Regions from separate parts of the Homo sapiens genome. Here region 2 is linked to region 1. Evidence: fine-mapped expression QTL. Tissue or cell type: lung. Region 1 holds a variant in brackets; the other region holds the start of a gene. All regions are shown on one strand. Distances are from middle to middle.

Region 1 (8,190 bases):
AAAAGTATATTTAAAGTTGTATAGATATTTCCAGATTGCTTTCCCAAAATAAGGCCATAATATTTCACATTTCCACAAGCAATGTATGAGAGTTTTCTTTCTCAGAATCCTCACCATCAATAGGTGATATCACTAATTTTAGGTTTTGCCAATCTCATGAATATAAAGTAATACACTATATTTTAAATTATCTTTCCTTAAGTTTTTATGAGGTTCAGCATCTATTCTTCATTTTGTCATTTAAATTTGCTTTTCTATGAACTGTGTATTCATATATACATAGTATTAAGTTTTACAAATAAAATTATTTTAAATGTATTTAGTCAATAATATATTTTCAACTGATGTGAAAATCAAAATTTTTATTAAAAATAGACATTTTGTGTCATTTTTTAATCTGATGAGATAAATATCCAATACTGAAGACATGTGATAATGTCTAATACTGAAGACACATAGGGTATCAGCACTGTTGGTGGAAGCAAAAACAGAAACCATCTTTTTGTAGAGAAATTGGCAGAGACTGGCTGAGTGTGGTGGCTCATGCCCATAATTCCAGCACTTTGGGAGGCCAAGGCGAGTGGATTACTTAAGTTTAAGAGTTCGAGACCAGCCTGGCCAACATGGTGAAACCCCATCTCCACTAAAAATACAAAAATTAGCTGGGTGTGGTGGAAGGCACCTGTAATCCCAGCTACTCAGAAGACTGAGGCAGGAGAATCGCTTGAACCTGGGATCACGCCACTGCCCTCCAACCTGGGCAACAGAGCAAGACTCCATCTCGAAAAAAACAAAAAAAGAAAAAAGTTGGCAGGCAGGCCCACAGTTTTAATATTTTTACCCATTGATGCAATAATTTTGTATTATAACTCAAATCTCTAAAATATGATATAAATGAATATCACAGCAAAGTTGTATTTTATAGCAACAAGTTGAAAAAACCTAATTATTAAGAAGGAATTTGTTTAAAAATATGGTGTATGCATACAATAATATGCTAAAAAGAATGAAGCATGCATTTTCTATACACTTGCAGGAAATCTGTATGATATTCTGGTTAAAAGCTCAGGTTTGATGATAAACTGACCCTTGGGTCAAGCGTCAACTCCACCATTTATGACATGAACTGCTTTGGATATATGACTGCCTAAACCTCAATTCATCTTTGAAATAGAAATATCTACCTTATGGACTAGAAGTGAGAAATAGATTAGTTAATACATATAAAGTGCATAGAACAATGCATTTAATTAATATAGTAGTCCCCCTTATCTGCAGGAGATATGTTTCAAGACCTCCCCCCTCAAGTGGATGCCTGAAACTATGGATAGTACAAAACACTATAAAATACTATTTTTTTCCTATATATACATATCTTTGATAAAGCTGAATTTATAAATTAGGCACATTAAGAGATTAATGACAATAACTAATAATAAAATAGAATAATTATAACAATATACTAGCATCACTACTCTTGCCCTTTGGGGCCATTAAGTAAAATAAGGATGACTTGAGTAAAGCACTGAGACGAAAGTCGATCTGATAAATAAGAAGGCTACCAAGTGACTCAAAGGGTAGGGGGCATCTACAGCATGGAGATGTTAGACAAAGGGACGATTCATGTCCTGGGGCAGAACAGAGTTAGACAGCTTGAGATTTCTTCATGCTACTCAGAATGATGCACAATTAAAGCTTACAAATTATTTATTTCAGAGTTTTCAATTTAATATTTTTGGACTGCAGTTGACTACGGGTAACTGGAACCACGGAAAGTGAAACCATGGATAAGGGAGGAATACTGTACTCAATAAAGGCTAGCTTAAAACTATTGATTTAAAAATGTATTAATTGTTTAAAATTGTTAATATGGCAAGTCTTTTATCATGTACTGTTTGTAAAGAGGCAGGAGGTAAAAGAGTAGAACATAAATGTGTGTGTCTATCGTGTGTGTGTGTCTGTGTGTGCATGTGTGATGCTTAAAAAGATTCCTGGAAATATGCACAACATTGTTAACCATGTTATCTCTGGAATTTGGAGTAATTTTCACTTTTATTTTTGTATTTGCCAGTATTTGATTGACTATTCCACCATAAACATGTAACATCTTTATAAACAGGAAGACTATGCATCAAGGTAAGGAACATCATTCTCTAAAACATAAATTGTCTTTTACACACTGTATCTTTCAAAGCACTATAAAATGCCAAAAAAAATTAGACAGATATGAAAATGTATATAAAATTAACCTGGACATTGATCATTTTAAAATTCAAAATGTCTGATATAAGACAGAGTGCCTTAAAAATACTCAATGTGACAAGACAAGATAATAGGATTTCTTTCCGTAAGACAAGAAATAAAAATCGATTTTATCATGTGGTAATCATGTCATGTACGATTATAAAGTAGAAATTTCAGGTACCACACAAAATAAATTGCTGCTGATTAACCTTAATATGCTATCTCTCCTGAAAGTGGACAAATAATGAACAGAAATATTTGAGCAAACACACCAATGAAAATGTAAACCCTCATTATTCCTGATACATTTGCTATCTGGATGAGTTTTCAGATAGCTGTGGAACGTGCCTGCCATTCCAGCATTCCCAGCATTTCTAATATGACACAAATAACAATTTTCCAGAAGAAAGTTCATCAGTTTTATACTACAACTATGAATTTGAAATTTCACTCTATACTTCCATAGAACAACAGGTAAAGTCCTCAATCTTAAAACAGCCTCACTTATTGAAATAAGAGATTTGTTTCTTATGGGAAATTTCTTGTGCAGCTGATGAGAAATGACTTAACCTTTTCAGATAGAATTTTGATAACACAAATGAAGAGCTTTAGAAATGATTCTCACCCTTTATTCCAATAACTTTAATTTCAGAAATCTATGCTAAAAATAATTAGGAATGTGGACAAAGATTTACATATAATAATGTTATGATTGCATTATTTACAACAGCAAAACAGTGGGAAATATAATTATCTAATGATGTTGGAAAAATTAGGTAAATTAGGTTAAGGAAGTATTAAATAAATTTATATAATATAACTTTATACAGCCATTGAAATAATGTTTACAAAGTTTTTATGGTATGTGTTTCTGATAATAATAAAGCTAAAAATGGTTTATTATTATTAGCTATTAAACTAATAGCTAAGAAAGCAAGCTAGAAAACTGCATAAAATGTATAAAAGCTTATAAAGAAACATCCAACATTAATTATCTTTGTTGGTGGTTTACAGGTAATCCCTCTCATTCATTAGTGTACTTCTTTTTGCACTTTCCAAATGGAATGGACCTTAAAGGTCATTTAATCCAAAAATATCCATTTTATGCAAATGAAAAGCATCTGGAGAAATTAAGCAATTTAGACATGGTTTCACATAGACAATGCAACCTAGGCCAATGTTTTTTCCACAGTATCATCTTGCTTCTGTTTGGGGCCTATAATTATTATGTGCAATAAAACGTGTTCATATTTTTGCCTTGATCCTACTCTCTTCCAGAAAGTTCGGTGTGTCCAAAGACAGTCTAAATTCAGCTGCTTGTGCTATCATTTTAAAATGAGATCATTGGCTTTGACTGTAAAGAAGCTAACATGTACAAATACTTTGCAAGTCAACTCATAATTAATGGGTTCAGCGTCTGCGCAAATTCAGTGTGGGGCTTCTTACCAAAGTGAAAGGTTGATTCAGGGTCCTGGCAAGGCAAATGAGGAATTGTTTGGCTACTAACTACTTAAATAGGAAATACACAGAAGTTCTTTGTGCTTCTGTAAGAAAAGCTGAAAAACCATAATAAAAAAGTAACTAGCACAGTCATTCTCAACACGTGGTCCCAGGACCAGCATATTACCATTACCTGGAAACTTGTTAGAAATCCAAATTTTTAACCTGCCTCTCCATTCTTACTGAATCAGATCTACTGTGAGTAGGGCCCAGCAATCTGCAGTCTGCAACTTAACAAGCCTTCCAGAGAACACTGACGCATGCCAAATTTGAAAATCACCATCCTAGCAAATCAGTAGGTACCATGGTAGAGCTTTGCCAAAACTATGTTTTCAGGCAAACATCCAGACAGGGATTCCATTTAGCTTCTGATAATTATAAAATATAGAGCTAGTCAGGTCCCCGAGAGTCGCCTCTGCTCTCCTCATCCCTTAATCGCTTGTTTA[G/C]TGACTCTGATAAGGAGGTGGAATGTTAAACAAGATTTTTTAAATTCCAAGAGTTCCCCACTCTAAATGGAACATTTTGTTGTATAAATGGTGAGACTCACATGTGACTTTCCTACTTTTCCTTCGAGAAAGAGCTGAAACTCATTATTATTATTATTATTATTATTATTATTATTATTACTAAAGGTTATAATTAACTTGTTGGTGGAATTCTTTCTTTGGCAACAGAGATGTCACTGGTTTGATGAAATCTGAAAGAATGTTACAAAGAGACTTCACTAGGGGTAGGGGGATGTGAGTTCTGTTCCTCAGTTGGTTGAGCTGAGACACAGCCCTGAGCACATTTCATTTTGCTGTACCATAGAGCTGTTTCTTATGAAGATCACTAATTTTTTTTCCAAAAGTCCAAAGAAGAAAATGGCACTTGAATATCTGAAGGAGAGATTCAGCTATTTTATTAGTGTATTTGTGGGTTTGTTTTTTCAATTGCATATACATTTAATTGTGTATCTACTAGGTATATGCACGACATTGTTTTATGCAGAATACCATATAAATAGATGAATGAAATACTCCCTGCTTCACAAGAAGTTTATAATACAAAAGGGGAGATAAGATGAACACATAAAAATTATCAAAAAGTATGACACAAATCATACCCTAGGCATCAGAGATATATGAATAATGTGTGATGAGGTCTAAGGAAATTTGTTCACCATTTCTAGCTTGAGAAGAATTGAGGGGGGATTTCATACATTCATTTGAACTTTAAGAAATGACAGAGCCAGGCGAGATGGTTCACGTCTGTAATCCCAGCACTTTGAGATGCTGAGGCGGGACAATTGCTTGAGCCCAGTAGTTCGACACCAGTCTGGGTAACATAGTGAGATTCCCCTCTCTACAAAAAAAAAAAAAAATAAGAAAAATTAGCTGGGCTTGGTGGCACGCTCCTGTAGTGCTGGCTACTCAGGGATTGAGGTGGGAGGATCCATTGAGGCCAGGATGTCAAGGCTGCAGTGAGCCATGGTTGCACCACTGCACTCCAGCCTGGGCAACAAAGCCAGATTGTCTCAAAAAAAAAAAAAAAAAAAAAAAGAACTGACAGGAGGGAGCTCTAGGAAACAAAAACCTCAACATCAATGCAAGGCAGAAAGCTTTGAAATGTGATCAGGCAAAGGTGAGCAGGCCAATTACTATGGTTATCCTCCCTAGCCATGTATTAGTATCACCTGGGAAACTTTTTTTTTTTTTTTTTTAAATAATGATGTCCTGGTCTGTCTCCCTCCCCCAAAATTCTGATTTAATTTTCTGGAGTGTCACCTGGGCATTGGCTTTTTAAATTTTTAAGTTCCTTAAGTAATTGGAATGTGCGGACAGGCCTGAGAACCATGGCTATAGCAGGGATGTGGAAGTGTCTGACCCCATGGCAGGGGAAGTATTGAATGCCTAATTAAGAAATATGTGTTCTGTTTAGCAGAAAACAATAGGGGAGTGTTTAATAGCCACTATGATAGCACAAGGATGAGGCAAAGCAGCTGTAGGGAAAGGGGAGCCATGGCAGAGCAGATGCACATTTTACAGGGCTTGGTGACAGATGTGTGTTGTGATTTCAGGAAAGAGAAACTGAAACTGTAAGGAAGCAGGTAGACCCCTGAACAGGCCAGTTTCTCTTGAAAACTTGAGATTCCAGTTCACCTAAGTAAGCAAGTCCTCTGTTTTTGTTTTTTTGTTTGTTTTTTTGACAGTTATACCACTGTCATTTGCTCAATGGAAATATAAAGTTGGCATCACTGAAATTAACAAGTTTTTAAGAAAGAAATGATCGCTCAGAGCTTAAGGAAGACTGCCTAAATCATAGTGATCTCCTAACGGGGACGGGGGATGTGATGATGAGCTTTAGAGCTGAGAGAGTGAGGGAATATGGAACTAGCAACAGAAACATGTCAGGCAAGAATGATAGATACTGCCGGGATAGCACTATCAGTTGTGTTTTATACATGTTGAGGCGGTAGGACACACAAATCAAAACATCTATCAGGTACCTGGACAATCTTGACTCTCCAAATTCTGCCCATAGGAGACAAATTAGATAGGATTCAACCTTATCTAGAGGTTATATCTCCTGAGGGGGATATTGCATTTGCAGAGTACAAAAAATTCTTGACGGGAGTATCAAGAAAAGGAAAAAAATGACTGGGGATAAATATCTTGGAGAATGTCCATATTTGGAGAAAGAACACAAAGAAGGAGGGGTTGAAAGATGGGAGATGCAGGTTAAGGCATCATTCAGGAGGTTAAGAGGGAAAAGGGTTTGGAAGAACACTCCCAACCCATACCACGAGCAAGGTGTTTATTCCACTACGGCTCATGCATTTCATCGAGTTTGGGAAACACTGCTAGAGTAAGAAAAAAGAAACTGAGAAATTACCTCAGTGAATTCACATCAATGCTTAATTCATTATTTAAATAGAATTTATATAACTTTTGAGAAACACTGATATTCTACTCACGCCCAAATCTATTCTAATACCAAAAATATTGCAGTTTAATAGTGACTGAATTTCCTAACAAAAAGGAGTTTCTTGGTAAATTGTGAAGGCACAATTTTAGGAGATAGGTGGGGGTGAAAGTCATTATAGACAGTTAATTGGGGAGAGATTGCTAAGAAAAAATTTCTACTTTTTCTTAAGGCTTTATTACCCAAATGGTAGTTTGTAAGTCCACCAAGAGACAGTGTAAGAGGGAAGCAACTTCAGCTAAAAAAGATGAAAGACCTTCAGGGGAAAATGTTAATTATTTTGGGAAACATCAAGTCTAAAAAGGAAGTGAGTTGGGAGGTTTCAACAATATTTATAATATTGAGAGTAGAAAGTAAAAGTTGTACAATCATTAAAAGAGTCTGGGAACTATAGTTAGAAGCTCCCAAACGCCTCCCAAATTGAGAAAAATGTCAAAAATACTTCAAACAGCTAAACTGGATAATGCATTGGCGTAGCAAACACCCTGTACCTGGAGTCTCCAAACTCCCTTTTTAGTTAATCCACAAACTGTCGTTTGAAAGCTCCCGTATGAAGGAGTTTGTTTATCTTTCCTGGAGTCTTTCCTCAATCTAAATGTAATTCGGATATTATGTGTTTTTACAAATTAAATCTGCCATTCAAAGCACAGTTTAGGCAAAACCAAACAAAAATGTCTAATTTCTTTTCAAAAAATAGTCTTTTTTCCATTTTAAAGACATACAAAAAGAACAATGACCTGAAGTAAATTACTTATCAAATTTTCAATGCTGCATTTTTCCTTAAAAATAAAAGAAAGTACATCTAACAAGACAGTTCAGAGAAAGTATCTTCAAAGTTATATTTAAACATTTCCCAGCTTTAGACAATTTAAATACCCAGTCTGGTTTCTATGAAACTTAAAAAGATCAAACAATTAGAAGGAAGCTAGGCTTGAAGGGGCAATGCTAGGGACTTTGGTAAACATCTGGTTGCCATTTTCAGTTGTAAGAGCTAACCCATTTAAGGAAGCAGTTTAGTTTCTTTGGAGTAAAAACGAGACACTGGCTTTTTGTTCTCTGTGCACAGCGAAGGGTAAAGAAAACATCAGAATGGGGAGGTCACTCTAAGCTCAACTTTTATAAATAAGAAAATTTTTTTCAAAAATTAAAGTAAATTGAACTGAAGTCCCTGTAGTCTAAACAACTCAACTGAGTTAAGGTTAAATAAACATTCCTTGAGCTCCAGTGAGCCAATTAAAGAACGAATTCTGTTTGGTCGTAAATACATCAGTAAATCTATAAGCACTGAGGAAAATAACAATAAACCTGAGCATACAATTACTGTGTGTCATAACCCAGTAAAATAGAATAGTGCAGTCTTACATGTTTCTTTGATTCAATTCCTTTTTTCCCCCCAGTTTGATTAACTAAATAAAGTACAGAAGCACTTCTGATACCGTCCAAAGCCTATTACTTGCATAATGAAAAACGTATGTCAAACGT
Region 2 (8,190 bases), 39 kb after region 1:
TCTGAATATTTATCCCTGCAAACACTAAAACATTCACTGAAACACTTGTTCTAATATGCTCAGTTGAAGTCTTTAACTATGATTTTTTGATTTTAGGTTTTTAAATCTACATCCAGTTTACACATCCTGGAGGGGCAGTTAGTTTAACATGTAAACATACTGGTTGTTAAGCATTTGTAGTGGTTCTTAGCATGTTTTTAGTTCTGAATATCTGACATAAATCTATAATTTTCCCCCCAAAGATCTTCACATACACCTACATTACAGTATTTTGCATAAAATGTCATGGATGTATACATTTCATACATCTAAATACATTCTGGAATCCATGAACCCTAGGTCAAAATCAGCTGGTTTAAGTAACTTTTAAAAACACTTAAAGCAAAGATTTGACTAAGATTTGACTAAATAAAAGTAATAACAAAATCCAAAATTTACAGATAGAAACAATGCTACTTCTATAAAATGCCTCAAAGCTAATTCTAGGTTTTCAGGAAACCTATATAGCATCTAATCAGTTTTTTTAAATGAACTTCACAAGTAGTTACTTTAGAAAATGATCAATATATTGATCCCAAAAGCTTTCTCTCTTCATTTTAGCCATCTGAAAGAGTATCTAATAATTTAAATTGGAGTATGATTTGACTCTTTTTTCAAAACATATACTATAAGTAGAATTAATTTGTATCTGGTTTTAATTAACATGTGTATGATACTTTCTTTCTCACTTCCTTTCTGTCTCAAATAAAAAGTGGCTTTAATCCAGGGGCTGGCATAGGTTAAAAATGGAGTGACATGGCTAATGTTTGGAAATCTACTTTCCATATCCACTGGGCTCCTGAACTATAATTGTAAATTTAGAATCTTGCTTACAGTTAAAATACTTAAGACTGTGAATCATTTTTAAACGAAATTCATCATGTGTTTGGCATTTTTGGTGAAGAAAATTCTCAAGTGAATGTTTTACACCAGGAGCCAGTAAGTTTCAGATGGTTTATAAGTAGTAGGAGATTCAAAGTTGAAATCGAATTTTCTATGACAGCCCACAAATAACAGCTAACATATGCCTAAATTACAAACAAAGTAGGAATCACACAGAGTGAACAAGGGGAGTAAGAAAGCTGTAAGTTCATGAATAAAACCTTTTCATTCAAAATTCCTAGCAAAAATTTTAGGCATTAAATAAGAGCAAGACTATCTCAACTATTTTTTAAGAAATTGCCTTTCTCAATGTTGAAACTAACAAGAAATGACTTTAACAGTCACAGTTTACATCCATTGTAACTGTGATGTAGTCAGGAAAAGAAAAAAGTTAATGCTAGTATAAATGAACAACAACAACAAAAATACACATTCTTCAATAACTTTACTGTGCCTAAAAATAGATGTACAATTTCAGTTGCAGTTTCATTTTAAAGTGTTTCAACTTATATTATCTACTATTCTTTGTCATAAGATAGTTCTTGGTCAGGATGTTTCCTGGCATTACGGATAACAAATGAAGTCACTTAAAAGTTTAAAATTTTCCTTGTTTTAACTTAATGTTATTTTGTATTTCAGTAAGTTCTTGTAGTTGTGGTTTCAAAAATTATTACAAGGGCTTTGAATTGACTTTTATTTGGAGCATCAGCCCTGCAGTAGGAACCAAGCAGCTTGATAGCTATTGCTCTGGGGATGCATCTTGTCATAATGCTAACCATGTGACCTACCTAAATGGCACTGTCAGGCTCCTTGTTCATAAAATGCTAATAATCCTATCTACTGTACCTGTCTCACAGGGCAGTAGTCTGAAACGAAATAAATAAAAGAGTTTTTAAAAGAAGTGGTGCTGGTCAATCGTGGAGGTTTTGGTAATAATGGTAGCAACGGAGCTGGTGTTCAAGTAGAAATTCTACTTCAAACGGTAACCGGCATCATAAGATCGACCAGAATCTACTGTAGATATAAGATGCTACTTACAGAGCCCTCTATTTTGTTGCTACAATACTACTTGTTGTAACATAAAATTTAGTAGCTTTGCCACCATGATCTTTTTTGCATGGATTTTTTTTTATTTCTTCATGTTCTGTTTTACACTTGACTATGTTACAGGTCATTATATTACTGATAGGCATGAGGAGAGTGGTATATTAAAATAGAAATCCTGTGTTACTTTGTGTGCTTTTTGTGTTTTTTTTCAATATTTGACAAGTAAGATTAGTAAGTTTATCTGAATAGTATAAATATAGAATAATCTGTATTTCCCTGATCCTATAAACAATAAAATACATTGTATCAATTCTTTTGAAGAAACCTATTATCCTATTATTTTAATGCTTTCGAAGTAAATATATTGCTTTAGAAATGTGGTCACCAATTAAGAATCAATCTAGCTAGTTACAAAATGAAACTTTGGAGAATCTTTGAGTCTGGAATGGTCTGGGCACTCATACTGACTGCCTTGAGAAAAGAGACACTCAAGGTTTATCAAAGTTTTTGAAACTTTGATTTATGTTTTTGAATTGTAAATCCTCAGATCTCTTAGAATACTGATATTTTAGAAAGAATCCACATCATTTTATGCCTCCTCCAAACTGTCTACTTCATTCCACTGAAATGAAGTGAAATCCTAAGAGATAAAGTAATGCCAGAACTTTCTGGAAGTAACTATAAGAAGTTGAAGCTTATGTAACGTGTTTCCCAGTCATCAGGTCACTCTCTAGGCTGTTTACACTCTGGATCCCTTTCAGACCTCATGGAAGTTAATTTTAGTTTTATAGAAAGGACAGAGAAGCAGATTGCTGTCTTTGCAGAAACTGTCTCCGTTAAGCTTATGAGAGTCTTACCTTTCTGGTTTCCTGGGCATTACCAGAGAGAAGGAAGCACTGTTTGTCCTGAGAGAATCCTTTCTTGCATCTGCTTGCCTGGGTTTCAGTGGATGTGTGTGGGACAGCCCCAGGGGCAGCGGCTGTGAGCTTCCTCGACCCTCGGAGGGTCAGAGTCTGGTAGAAGAGACAGATTGCCACCACTAAGCCCACCAAGAAGGGTCGGGGGCAAAATCGCCGACGACAAGGGAACACTGGGCGACAGACCATGACCAGTTCAGCTTCACTTGGCCCCTGTCCACGTTGCGGGAAAAGTCATAGCAGCTATTTTTTGTCAGCATGAAAAATACTAATCTGTCTTCTTTTTCCCCAACTCCAATCAAGTTTGCTTCATCCCTGCTTAAGAATTTTCCAAAAGGTTGTGCCAAAGAATCATAGGTCCCGAAAGTCTGAGGCTTTTAATAAGAGCTCTTCCATGGATGACAGTCAAAAGTGGATGACCTGAGTTTAAAAAAAGACATCAAATAATAATAGTTGTAACGAATAACCTGAGTGTACCCCAGGCTGCCAAACTGTTGCTTCCAGCAATGCCTTATTCTCACATCTTTCAACTCACAGTAAAGGAGTCCGACTCTGCCTCAGCTTTGCAGGAAGAGAGAAAACAATACCAAAGTATATCTGGAGTCTGAAAACAGCATTGAAGAACGCAAAAGATTAAAACCCAAAGTGCCTGTTGCACAGCTGAACTCAGGCCAGGTTGCCTTAGCAGTTCCTCAATTTTCCTCCGGTTTTAAAGCAGTCTTGCTTTCAGCCTTTTGTATGCTTCCCTTCATTTAGTTTTAAATTCCCACTGTCCTGTAAGTATTCACGGCTTTTAACATAAAAAGGGCATACGCAATTTGAATGGACATGGTTACTGTCAGGGTTTTTGCTTGAATTTGTTTCATTCCGTCTCAAGTTCAAAGTTCTATGTACTTACTCAGTTTTCATCCTTTTAGCCAGGAAAAAAAAAGTTTCCATGATTTCCTAATGGATTGCTGATGAAAACCACTCGGAAGGAAACACCCAGTCGTATGACTCCAATTCATCTCACACACACACAGAGAGAGACACACACACACACGCACACAGACACATAAACACACGCGCGCGCGCCCGCTGCACGCCCGGCGGGAGCAGAGGACCTCGGCATCGCAGCCACCCGGGGCCGGGCAGAGCGGGGCGGAGCTAAGGCCGGGTTCCTCTGGCCCTGGGGGCTGCTGGAGCAGCGCTGTCAGCCCTGTGTCCGAAACCGTGGGCTTCCCCACTTTGGAAACAGCAGCTAGCATTTCCCCAAATGAGGCTGCCCACCCAGAGCTGCAGAATTTAGAAACGTATCTGATGTCTGATCCTCTGTGCAACTTCTTTTTCCTAATACAGAATTGGAAAAACAAATAGCCTTAGCCAATTGGTGACAAAGGTCGAGAATGAGACTAAAGTGAACTCCATGAGTGAATTGGGATATTCTTCACTCCAGGGAATTGTGGTTACTCTTCTGAGGATAAGAGGGTCACAAGTACTGTCTGGACCTCAGACAGCAAGCACCAGAATAACTCAGTCGTCTCTCTGTGTCTTAGTATGGAACTCAGATCACAGATGTTCTTATTACTCCTTTCCTGGACTAATTAATTGGGTCTTTCAATGATCTGATGCTTCATGGCCTGACATTTTGCTCCTAAAATGAGTCGATTATAGCAGGTGTTGGGGGTAACTTTTGCCCAGTAGATAAAGGTACACAGTGGGCTTTGTCCAGAATCAGCTCAGTCTAATTCTGTGCAGACCTTCGGGTGGACGCTGCTAATAGTGCAATTCTGCAAACCCCCTTCCACTTTTGCTGAGGCTGTCAAGGCGAAAGGAAATCAGTCCTTGCTTTGTGAACTCTGGATACCCAGGGCTGTCTTAGCGCATAGCAGGCATTATTTAAAGGCTCTGGACCTGAAGAGGTTTTCAAACTTGTTTCTAAGCCAAACTCTTGTGGGTTGAGGTTCTCCGTGAGGCCACACCCCTAGAGTGAGCCTCACCCAGAGGCACGCTGCTGTCAGCCCCTTGTATTTTGAGAGACGGAGCGCCCCCTAGGGGTGCCCAGCTAGCACAGATTCAGAGAAATGGGCATCTAGAGTTCCTTGCTTGTGAGAAAGAAACCCTTTTAACATCCTATAGAACAAATTAATTAACACATTACAGAAGAAATATTCACACGGAAGCTGGATTTATCCCAAGCCCTTGCATGTATCGCCTCCAGTGGCTTTAATATTATTTTATGTATAGGTTCAGAGTCCTTAATCTTATGACAAATGGGATAGAGAAAAATAAAGTGATGCTTCACTTTTAGAAGCCAAAAGAGTTTTAAGAGAAAATGGCTGAACAGTGGTGTTGTAGGACATATCGTTTTGGTGGATGCAATGTGATTTGAGAGATAATAAGAATTGTGAGATTTCTAAATTGGAATCCAGGGTGTGACAATGCTGTTACTGAGTGATAAGGAATAGGCAGACAGTTCTATTAAGTTCTGTTAAGGCAAGAAGTCTGAAAAACAGAGTTTGGGGAATCTAAAGAGTCATTCTTATGCTTTATTAAATTGTTGAGAACAAGGTACAGAAGAAAGTAAATCAGATGCTAAAATAAAATTGCCATTCGGTTGGGAGAAATGAAAGACAACAGTATTGAAAATTTTAAGATAATATAGCTAGACTTCAAATAATGGGAATTGGGAAGAAGGTGGAAAATTAGTATCCCAGAAATGATTCTAGTAGATTAAAGAACCCCATTTCCCATTTTAACCACTGAGTCCAAGGGAGTGGAAGAAAGCAGTAAGGAAATATTTGCAAGAGAGAGAAAAGAGGTAGCTTGAGAAGGTGCAAACAAGAGGTGGAAAGGAGATATAGCAGGAATTATCACCAAATAGACTAAGGCGATACACAAGCATCTGATTTTAGAGTAAACCCAATCTGGATATGATTCATGGCACTGCCTTTTATCAGCTGTTCTTAAACAAGTGGTTTGACCAAAGTCTCAGCTTTCCTCATTCGTGATATAAGGATACTAATGTTTCCTTTGAAGTGTTGTTGGTACAACTAGTTGAGATAATATATGGAAAGCAACTAAGCATTCTGTATTTGCTGGATAAATGAATGCTGAATGCATGTATGTTAAGGTTTGAATCCTGAGGCTGTGCTCCTTCCTCACTGAGTTTATGGGAGATGTGGTGTCAGACACGTAAAAAGATAATTATCAAATAATGAGTCCCGTGGAACATCTAGACACCAAAAGCAAACATGAGCTCTTAGTTCTCTTCCTTTCCCTCTTTGAGATAGAAGTGCACCCACCAGCAGATGCTGGTTTGGGAGGACAAGGGCAAGGGTGGCATGAAAGCAGCATGTGGAGACTCTACCTGAGAGGTATTTACACCTGAGCAGTAGGTTACACACATTCGAATGGAATGACAGAGCTTGAAGGAGTCAGAAGAGTGAATGAGGCCGGTTGCGATGTCGCTCACCTGTAATCCCAGCACTTTGGGAGGCCAAGGCGGGAGGATCACTTGAGCCCAGGAGTCTCAGACCAGCCTGGACAACATGGCGAAACTCCATCTCTGCAAAAAATTAGCCAAGCCTGTTGGTGTGTGCCTGTGGTCCTAGCTACTCAAGAGGCTGAGGTAGGAGGATCACCTGAGCCCAGGGAGGTCAAGGCTACAGTGAGCCATGATTGTGCCACTGTACTCTGGCCTGGACAACAGAGTGAGACCATGTCTCAAAAACAACAAAACAAAACAAACAAACAAACAAAAAAATAGGGAATAATAAAGACAGAGAACAAGTTAATTTAGGGATGGGGTTAGAGGGTAAATATTCACGAGAAATACGAGGCTGTAGATTCTGGCAGTATTTCAGACTAAATGCTTTTGTGCATATAATTTCATAAAGTACACTTTACACTAAATAATTTCAGTATTCAAGGGCCTGTATTTAAGCAGATTAATCTGGGACAATAGATTAACAGGCCTTTCAGGATCCTATCATTTCGAGCTTGGACAAAACAGAACAATCTTTCTCCCCAAACCTCTCCAACACAAAATATACGCTCCCTTCCCACACATTTCATTTGGTCTTTGGTATGGAGTAGGTGTAAGAGGAAAGTATGCACTCAAATAATTGTTTGAAGAAGGTATTTTTTTTAAATTTTTTTTAACTAAGGGAATAAAAATATTCTTAACATAAAATTCCAGTGTTGGATTAGGAACTTTGGGGAAGTAATATATCTCTCTATCCCTCTGAGTCCCATCTTTCTCATAAAACAGGAGTTTCAGGGATCAACTGATGACCTCAAAGGTCACCCTAGGCTACGAAAATGTATGCTTTTAGGGATACATTTTGACATGGATTTCCTCTCTGTCTTCAGATTCTGGGCTCTGTTGCTTTCCTGCAGGGAACAGCCTTTCCCTTTCAAGATATTATCTGACTATGATAAGGTAAAATCCAGCTGTAGTTACTAGCAGTGACGTCATGGATTAAGTGCTGGAAGTCTTATCAGCAATGCCTGGTCTCTAACCTTCCAGTCCCTCTTCCCTAGAAAGTTTGACAGCCCTCTTCTCAGCTCCTATCACCTCTTATCTAATGCTGACTCTAGAACTTGCCCCATAAGCTATGAACTTAAGATGAGGTTTTTAAACCCTGAATGACACATTGAATCTCTACTATGCAGAAACATCATCCTAGGTGCTGGGAAAAACAGAAGACATATGACAAATACTATGAACAACTGAAATATAAGAAACACACTGATGAATGGGTCACAGCAGGATAACTGCTGAAACAAATAACTGTAAAAATAACCATAAAATTTCATTGGCTTGATACAATAAGAGCTCATTTCTCACTCACAACATTTTTAAGTGTTTGTCAGTTTTCTCTAAGACATTTGGTACCTAAGGTCCTTCCACCTGGTGACTTTCCATAACCTAGAATCTTGGATACTCATTGGGATCCTCTGCCTCCCATTAGCAGACAATGAATGAGAAAGGGCATGGTGAATTTTGTGGGAGGTCTTTTATGGGCCAAGCTTCAAATTGGCATATACCTCTTGTGCCATGTTCTATTGTCCAGAGCCTACTCACATGGACCCACCTAACAGAAATGGAGTTGTGAAATGAGATCTAGTTACATGCCCAGGAGGAAAAGGAAATAAGGCTGATAAACAGATAGCAGTCCCAGCCACAACTAAGATGGATATATTCCAAGCAACATGGAGAATCAAAATAAGGAGTTCACATCTTTTGAGAGGTGATAAGAAAAAAGTAACCACTTCCCAACTGGGCCCTAACAAGTCACAAAGATTTCAACTACTGCAAGAG

Evidence for each region. PIP is the estimated chance that this variant, and not a neighbour inherited with it, causes the effect.
Region 2: CPED1 starts here. The variant in region 1 is fine-mapped to the expression of CPED1 in lung (TOPMed, PIP above 0.99).

What each region holds. Positions count from the first base shown.
Region 1 is chr7:121,023,923-121,032,112 of GRCh38, reverse strand. The region is part of intron 3 of CPED1 (cadherin like and PC-esterase domain containing 1); the gene reads right to left. Among named protein-coding and RNA genes, the nearest start is that of CPED1, 39 kb to the right of the region's middle. The variant G/C (reference allele first, on the strand shown) is at 4,191.
Region 2 is chr7:120,984,506-120,992,695 of GRCh38, reverse strand. CPED1 (cadherin like and PC-esterase domain containing 1) reads right to left here and starts at 3,985. Exons shown (of 23, transcript NM_024913.5): 1 at 3,784-3,985; 2 at 2,826-3,305. The coding sequence starts at 3,074. RefSeq lists an enhancer at 4,730-4,809.